Linked DNA regions of Homo sapiens: region 2 is linked to region 1. A link means that fine-mapping ties the variant in region 1 to the expression of a gene that starts in the linked region. Tissue or cell type: caudate. Region 1 holds a variant in brackets; the other region holds the start of a gene. All regions are shown on one strand. Distances are from middle to middle.

Region 1 (4,399 bases):
AATACTAACATTTTCTGAACTCTTGTTCTCCCAACCAATAAAAAAGACATGACCTAAAAGAATTCCAAAATGAAAATGGAACATTAATTAAAACACAAATGAATATATTTGGTGTTATTTCAGTTTTAAGAATATACTTACCTTTACTGTAAGTCTCTCAGATTCTTATACTATGTCTTTTTCTCCAAGATGTTTCCAGAAGACTAGTTCTACCAGGAGTAGGAGGGTAGTAGGGAGTTTGAAAACAGCCACTATACTAGGTTATACCCGTTCTTCAATTTTAACAAATGTAACACTCTACCATGTACCTATTATTTCCTCAAGTTTTGTATTTTAAAATTAAAAAAAAATATGTTAACTGTTTCCAGATCCTTGAGGGTACCATTCATTAGTAGGTGAAAAATAAGTCAGCTCTCCTATAACATTGCAAAAATAAGAAACAGTGCACATGGTTGTAATTTGCATTGCTTGGGTGGATAGTGTACTTGCCATAATTCAACAATATAGAACTTTTTACAAATATCTAAGTGTCTATTTTCTAGTCAAAGTAATAAAAAAATGACTAAGCCCCTGGACCTAATAGTATAACATGAAGATAATCAACGAAAAGAGAACTAAAATGCTGCTTCAAGATGAATTGCTAGAAATGGCTTGGAATTTCAAGGCTGCCATTGTCATTATCAGTGAGATATCTGTTTATAGTAACCTTAAAGCTATCCAAGGAAATGCAACTATATAAGCAGAAGAGCATATAATAAGAAAAAATTGCCAGGCATAGGAAAAAAATCTCTTTCATAAAGAAGATTTTATTTGTTACTGATAATGATCGTATTTGTTTCCCACAGCATGATCCACATATGAAAGTAAGTTAAAAGATAATGAATTGTAAGGAAAAGAAAGACATTTGTACCTACTTATGCTGCCAATAGCTTTCCTTGGGTGGAGAGTGGTACCTCTATTTACGCTTAAGATTCAAACAAACTGCATCACAAATTGTCATAAAATACATATGCTCAGGATATAATGTTTTGAAAAGCTGCATTTCTCAAATCACTGCTACCAAATGCTGTATCAGTCATGATTCAGACCAGGAAACAGAAAGCACTCTTGGAATTCAAGCAGGGAGAGATTTACTGATTAAGGGTTTCAAAAATCAGAGGAGCTGGAGGAGTTGGAATCAGGGGAGTTACAACCGGACTACTAATTTCAAGGTCATACTGCCATAGCTGTGATGTAGAGGTCAGGAAGCTCTACTGCTGCTGGCTTAGATATCACTGCCACAGGCTTTCAAACCCCTAGAGCTGATGTCTTGCATTGGCATGCAGAGTGTAAGCATGCCAACCCTCTCTTCTGTCTGACATTGCTTTGCTGCAGTCACCAACAGGAATAAGGCCACTGCTTTGCTTCTGACTCGAAAGTTTGCATACAACTGTTAGCTAGAAGGGAATATGGGCAAAGTAAAAGGAAAGTGTAATAGAGAGATTGAGAGAGCTAGGCCAAGTAGTGTTCCTTAAACTTTTACCCCTTGCCCCAAAATGTTAAAGAAAACAACTCTGAATCTAAAAGATTTTTTAAAAATAACTTACTTTGTAAATTGCACTGATATGCACTAATTTGATATTAAAATCTTTCTGAGCTGATTGTGAGGCTGTGTTTTATCTTCATTTATCCTACTACATGTGAATATTTATATGATTCTCTGCATAAATATCAAGTTATTTGAATACAAGGTGACCTGACCCTCTGAGGGTGTTATGAACTATACAGTAGAAATTACACCAAGTATCAGAATGTCAAATATCAGATTGTCAAATCAGACTTACATGCACTGGAAATCTTAACCAATATCATCTTACCTGACACCAATCTTTACTAATAACTTCAATAATAGAAGGAATGCAAGGCAAAGGAAAATCAGAGAGTTGTCTGGGAGCTCCAATGTAGCTACTTACTTCTTTTCTTACCATTTTATATATTCTGGACCTAGGTTGTCATATCCTTTAAACATGTGTGCAGTTATACATTTAAATTATAAAACATGTCTAATGTAAAATAAGCTAAATCGCTTATGTGATAT[C/A]GTCCAGGGAACTTTACCAATAAATCTATATATTCTAGATTTATGTACCATAATCAATCGTAGACAACCAGGTTCATCATAGTGAAAGTATTGCATAAATGATTATTCTAACACAAACAAATGCCATTAGCGTGTTACCAAAGACATTCATAATTCATATGTTTACAAGAAGATTTGACAGTTTTTTGTCTTGATGATTTCCCCAAATCCTCCATCCTTAATGATAGAGGGAATAAACTGTAGGCCAGTTCCACGTTCATTTTCTTCTAAAGGTATTTGCATTATAGTACCTTTTTAAAATCTGAAACACTCTGAATTCTGAAGTTCATCAGGCCCCAGAGGTGTAGGAAAGGCAGTTTTGGACCTATATCTACCACAGTGCATTTATTTGCTTTTCAATGACTACATGCATTCTTCCACACATATTTCATCTTCTACACAGCAATGACATTCTTCCATCTAACCTAAGACATTTATTCTTTGTATAAATAAGGATCTTCTCATAATCTTAAAATGGGAGGCTTAAAGTTGAATTACTCATTGTATGCATCTTTGGGTTTATCCTCTAGGAACTCAAGTGTTGCTACCAGATTTTAAAATTGGACTCTGCCTCTTACTTTTTAGGAACTCTTTTCATTCTGGTTGCTTTATCTCTGGGTTGGCTTAGATTAGTGGCTCCCAATTGGGGTACGCTCTCGTGAAAGTAACACTGTGCGTCTATGAGCTACTTCAACATATTAAGAAGTCTACTGTGGTATTTCCTAAACATGGTTAATATATTGATAACTTAAGATGTTTCCTTAAAAAATTCAACTTTTTTGGCTGTACTTTGGTCTTACTAAGTCAGAATACCTTAGCAAGTACTAGAAATTTATATGTTTATTCAACTCCATGGGTAATCCTCATACACAGCATAATTTAAGGACTATTAGTCTAGTGGAATCATGTGTACGTTTGTGTGTGTGTATATATATATATATATATGCCTAAATTTACTAAAATGGTAATTATGTTTGTTTTAATTTGGAATTATAGTGAATTATGTGTGCTAACCTCATATTAAAAGATAAAATTATAACAAATTTAGTTATGGATCGAATTGGATTTTATTTGCAATTTATGAATCAAGACAGCTACATCCTACAAAACAGAATGTGAACTCTCACTGGGAAATCACAGAAGAGTGGATTTTGTAAGGTGAGAAAGAAACAGAACAAAGGAAAATAGTTGATTGGTTAACACTAGGTTACTTGAGTTAGTTTTTGGTAAGGGTTAAAACAGAGGGATCTTCCTTATGATGCTGAGTCATGTAGACTGGAATCTGCTGTTCTCAGGAAAAACTGTGCTGTTTGGGATCTATTTGCTTCCTAAAAGTTGCAGTTTGCTTATGTGACATTTAGCATGAGTGACTCCATTTTGGTTTGATCTGGTCTGATGGGGTCTGGTGCAAGATCGCAGTGCAAGAGCTCAGTCCAAGACAATGGCCTCCTATAATTGTGTTTAACATCTATTTTATTTTATTTTCAATTTCAATTTTTATTGAGCACATAGATGGCCAGATTACCTAGATGCTAAGAATACAGAGATGTAGAAAACACAGCTTTGCTCAAAAAGCTTGTGTGGATAAACACGCAAGTAAACCAAAAATTATTAAGTGTCTTCAGGACTTTAGCAGACATATGTCCCAGGTGATACAGGAGTATAGAAGAGGGATTAAAACCCATCTATTTGGCAGTTCAATATACCTTTGAGTAATAATACAAAAATAAGAAAATAAATTTGAAAATTGGAGCATTTTTAGTCAACCAAACAATCATTCAGTAACAGGAACATTTAATTAAAAAAGAAAAAATAATTCAGTGTTAAAACGTTGTTTTGTTGTTGTTTTCTGTTTGTTTGTTTGTTTGTTTTGTTTTGTTTTATTTTGAGATGGAGTCTCGCTCTGTCACCCAGGCTGGAGTACAATGGCATGATCTCGGCTCACTGCAACATCCACCTCCTACGTTCAAGCAATTCTCCTGCCTCAGCCTCCCGAGTAGCTGGGATTACAGGTGCCCACCACCATGCCAGGCTAATTTTTGTGTTTTTAGTAGAGACGGGGTTTCACGCTGTTGGCCAGGCAGGGTCTTGTACTCCTGACCTCAGGTGATCTGCCCACCTTGGCCTCCCAAAGTGCTGGGATTATAGGCATGAGCCATAGTGCCCAGCCTAAAACATGTTTTTATATTCACTTGACTATATGATGATTATAAATTCTTGCCAAGAGCTAATAGTCAATAATTTCATGATTTTACATTTTTCTTGTAGAAACACTTAATCATT
Region 2 (4,399 bases), 59 kb after region 1:
ATTCTTTAAACTCTGCCACTCATTTCAAAGTTTGTGAATTTTCAGTATGAAGTAAAATATGTAAAAAAATCTTTTTATTCTATATTGTACACTATATTATGAAATAATAAAAACATCTAGGAAAAATTAGACATGTAACAACTTTAGAAGAAAAGAAGCATACACTTCTCTACTAAAAGTACAAAAAAATTAGCCGGGCATGGTCGTGGGCGCCTGTAGTCCTAGCTACTCCGGAGGCTGAGGCAGGAGAATGGCGTGAACCCGGGAGGTGGAGCTTGCAGTGGGCCGAGATCGCGCCACTGCAATCCAGCCTGGGCAACAGAGAGAGACTCCGTCTCAAAAAAAAAAAAAAAAATTAAGCATACACTTTTGAATGTAGGAGTCATATTTCAAACACAAAATGGTTGTATTTTCAAGGGAAAGTAAACTTTATAATTTAAAACATGGAAAAAGTGACATAAAATACATTTATAATCACAGAGTAAGAATAAAAAGGTGAAATCCACAGATTATTGACAATGTTCTGCAAAGTCATCTCTGTGTTCTTTCATCTAGTCCAGTTTTTAATGGCTTCAAAGGAGCATCTAAAGATATTTCTGGATAATTTTACTCTCATAAATAGGTAGATAGTAATGCTGGCATTCACTTATAAGTCTCAAACAGCAAAGTAAATAAAGCTTTTAAAGCATCTTCCTTCACTTTTCAATCGTTCTCTTCCTTAGTTCTGTTCCCTTCTCATAGTTTTCCTCTCCACTCATGTCCAGTTTCAAAATATTAAATATAAAACCTTTTCAACTCTTGTTCTTAGAAGAGAATTCCTGATGTTACAAGGAAGAAAGTAAGTCTACAACTATTAAGATTTCTGAGTTTTAATTCCGTAGCCACTTTGTAATGGCAAACTAAAATTTTAGGGACTGGGATGATCATGTTGTAAACTTAAGTGGTCATAAAAACAACTTTACTAATATTATTATTCCAGTGATTCCCGTTGATGCCTCCGATGGCTCGGGAAAGTTCTTACACCGCCCCTGTAGTATATGGAAAAGGAAAACAAAACAAAACACAAAACAAAAACAACAAAACCCTCAAAGCCTGTTTAAAATGGCTCGAAGTACCCTTTTAAAGACAGAACCCCAGAGAAAAACGCTGCCAATTCGTTGCTTTATTGTTCCCTGCCTGGGGACCTCAATAGCCTTTTCCATTAACCTTCCCTTCTTACGCAACGGTTAATGACTTTGGGGGTTGTTTTGCTTTCTGTTTCTGCTGAGTCACTAAATTTTGCCTCTTTGTCCCCAGGTGCTGCTCAGCATAAAAGTTAAAAGTGCAATTCAGGAAGTACTGGGATTCTGTGTAGAGCCGAGGAAACCATTTCCCTAAGAGAAGCTCTGTTCCTTGGCTTGTCCTTCCTTCCCGGGAAGGAAGCTTCCGAGGAACGAAGGGAGAAGCTTTGTTTTGCCTGCAGAAGCAGCCCTGTGCTCGGCTGAGGGTTCTCAGCTGGCTGTGAACTGCGGAGCATTGTAGGCGCCTGGCTGGCTCAGGCCAATGCAGAAGTCTCTCCCTTCTCCAAAGACCCAAATCCCCACAGAACCAGCTTCGAGTTACTTTCCCTTCAAGGGGATTAAAATAATTGTGATTTGTGGCGCTCTCCGTTCGCGGTGGTATTTTCCTGTTGTGTTAAATGCCTCTTATTAAGTAATAGATGTGATTTATGTGAACGACGAAGGGGTGTGTGGTGGATTCGGTGATTAATCAGTGAATTCCCATCCGCTGGCATCTCTCACTGCCCCTCTTGCGTGATGTAAGATCAGACGTACCCTGCATTGAAAAGTCAAGACACACGGGCGTCTCGCTCGCGCTCACACACGCTCTGCCTCCTCTCTCCCGCACGCGCGCATCCCTCCACCTTCCACATCCTGCTCCAGGCAGGAGAAGGCTGACTGGCTGGACTCATTGAGCTGAAGAATTTCCAGTGACATTTGTAAATGACGCCGCTCGATTCCAGGCTCCAAGCGGCCCCTGCCGCCGCCGCCGCCGCCGGGCCGAAGGTGCCGCCGAGCAGTCTCCAGCGCAGGCTTCCTTACCGGGCGACCACAATGTCCGAGTTTCTCCTCGCCTTACTCACTCTCTCGGGATTATTGCCGATTGCCAGGGTGCTGACCGTGGGAGCCGACCGAGGTAAGGAGAACACCTCCCCGCTCCCCTCCCCTGACTTCCTTGGCTTTCCTGCTGGGCGATGCTTGCAGATAAGTGAGTGTGAAACTTAAGTCCTTGCAGCTCCGCTCCCCGGGACCGGGTGACCACCGTGCGCTGGCCCTGTGCGGGGGTGAGAGGTGCGGTGCGGGATTTCTGAACCAAGTGCCTGAGTCCTCGGCACCCCCACAGCTTTTCCCTTTGGCCGTTTCCCGGTCCCCATTTTGTCCCCTCCGGGAGTGTGTGCACTTGGCTGTGCGCTTCTGTCCGCGAATTCTAAGCGCTGCAGATGTTGGAATGAGAATTCGCATTTCCGAAAGACTTCCCTCCGCGATGGCCCTCAACTGCGAGCTTTTGCGAGCTCCAGGTTCTCCGCGTTAAGCGTGTCCGCCCTCAACTTAGCTCCCAGGTTAACTTCCTTACCTGCTGCATTCGAGGTCCGTGGAGCGGCGAAAGCGCCGATTCAGGCCCCTTTCGTTTCTATAGCCCCTTCCTGGGGGCAGACTGGGGTCAGAGTCCTGTCATCAGCAGAGAGGCTTTTAGGACGATTCCGGGCGCACGCACCTGCTTGAAATTGACTTTTCGATTATGAGGGTCTGTGACACAGCCCAGGTGCTCTGAGGGGCTAACCCACCCCTGGAGTGCCTCTCTCCAGTCTGGCGCTTTGCTTTTCCTTTTTCTCCAAGCAGCTGGTGAATGGTAGAAGTTTAGAAGGGAATGGATATGGGGAGCAGAGGAGAAAGGAGGTAGGAATTAGAAAAAGCCGGGATTCTATAAACTTTTCATCTGGAAAATCAAGAATCCCTGTGCGAGTTTAATAATCTTTGACAACAGATGCACTGGTGAAAAAGGGAGGAAAATACTAGATGAATATTTGGGGCACTGGCCCTGGCCTTGGAATGGTTAACTGGTTAAAGTAAAATCAGAAGTATCATAGATTTTTTTAAAATCAGAAAATGAGCTTATATTGACTGGTATAGTTCAGCTTTTTAGTTTAAATAAGAGAGAGAGAGAGAGAGAGAGAGAGAGAGAGAGAGAGAGAGAGAGAAAGAGAGAAAGAAACCCAGATCCCAATGCCAAGCAAATAGGCAGAATGTTGCATTGGGAGATTTAGTTATTGTATTTACATGAAGCAGATTATGAATTGACAAAAAATATTGCTTCATTATAGGAAAGAACAGGGGAATGAACTGCAGTGTTTCTATTCAACCTGCTGTTGGCAGCCAGATTCTAGCCTTTGTAACATACCTACACGTGTTATTTCCTCTACCAGTGGTGGGACTAATCTGAGTTCCTTTAGGAAATCTGACACTTATTGGTGATAATCTTTTAAGCATATCATTGCCACCTAACCATAGCTTCTGAACTTGCTCAACTTGCCTTGAAGTTGGTGTGGAATGGTTGGAAACTATACTGATGAAATGGAAGCACATAGCTCGCCTTGAAATGATGATGTCTTTGATCTGGAACAATCAGCTCTCAACCTTTCTTAGGAAAAATGTTTGAAGTTGGACCAGAGCAGATGAACAGAATGGAGATTTTCAGCCCAGTATGCTAGCAAAATATAATGGTACTGGCAGACTACTGCTATTGGGCTCTTCCTGATTGAGTCTCCAATCTCCAGAAATTTGACTTCATCTAAAGCTGAGTTCTCAATGCTTTTGTATACATTTATGAGGATAGAACTACTGCTACCATGATTGGAGTAAATATCTGAAGAGAATTTTGTATAGAACATAAAAAATACAGACCCCACAACTTTCTTCTGAGATAGAATATTAAATAACTAAGAGGATTATATTTGGTGCCAATTTAGTTTCATGAGGGAGAGGAACATCTAAGATAGAAGCAGAGCACATGGTAAACGATTGCTAGTTTTTTTCTAAAAAATGAAATAGTGTCGTGTTGTATCACCACGTCCACATGAAGTACTATATCAGATAGCACAAGTAAAAATAATTGTAGACCAGCACTTTGCCACTATTATATATTTAACACACTTTCAAAACTGTTAGCAAAGAGCTAAAATTCTCACAGTTACCAAAAGTGAAAAGGATGGGCCCCATTTGGAAAAAGGAATTTTAAAGAGAGAAATCTTGTTGAAAGTTAAGAAAGAAAGTGTTACTGCATTATGACAAGCTTCCCTCACTAATATGCTGAAACAGAAGATATGGGAATATAAACTCAAGAAAGAGGTTAATGAGATGTA

Which allele goes with the higher level. Alleles are on the strand shown, and positions count from the first base shown. SD is a standard deviation of normalised expression in the study named.
With allele C in place of A in region 1, the expression in caudate of the gene that starts at base 1,807 in region 2 is higher (small effect, 0.22 SD a copy in GTEx).

What was found. PIP is the estimated chance that this variant, and not a neighbour inherited with it, causes the effect. A credible set is the group of variants that fine-mapping cannot tell apart.
Region 2: LRP1B starts here. The variant in region 1 is the best candidate, but not a certain one, in a credible set for the expression of LRP1B in caudate (GTEx, PIP 0.85).

Annotation. Positions count from the first base shown.
Region 1 is chr2:142,187,812-142,192,210 of GRCh38, reverse strand. No RefSeq gene overlaps it. Among named protein-coding and RNA genes, the nearest start is that of LRP1B, 59 kb to the right of the region's middle. The variant C/A (reference allele first, on the strand shown) is at 2,078.
Region 2 is chr2:142,128,424-142,132,822 of GRCh38, reverse strand. LRP1B (LDL receptor related protein 1B) reads left to right here and starts at 1,807. Exons shown (of 91, transcript NM_018557.3): 1 at 1,807-2,175. The coding sequence starts at 2,094. RefSeq lists an enhancer at 740-1,939.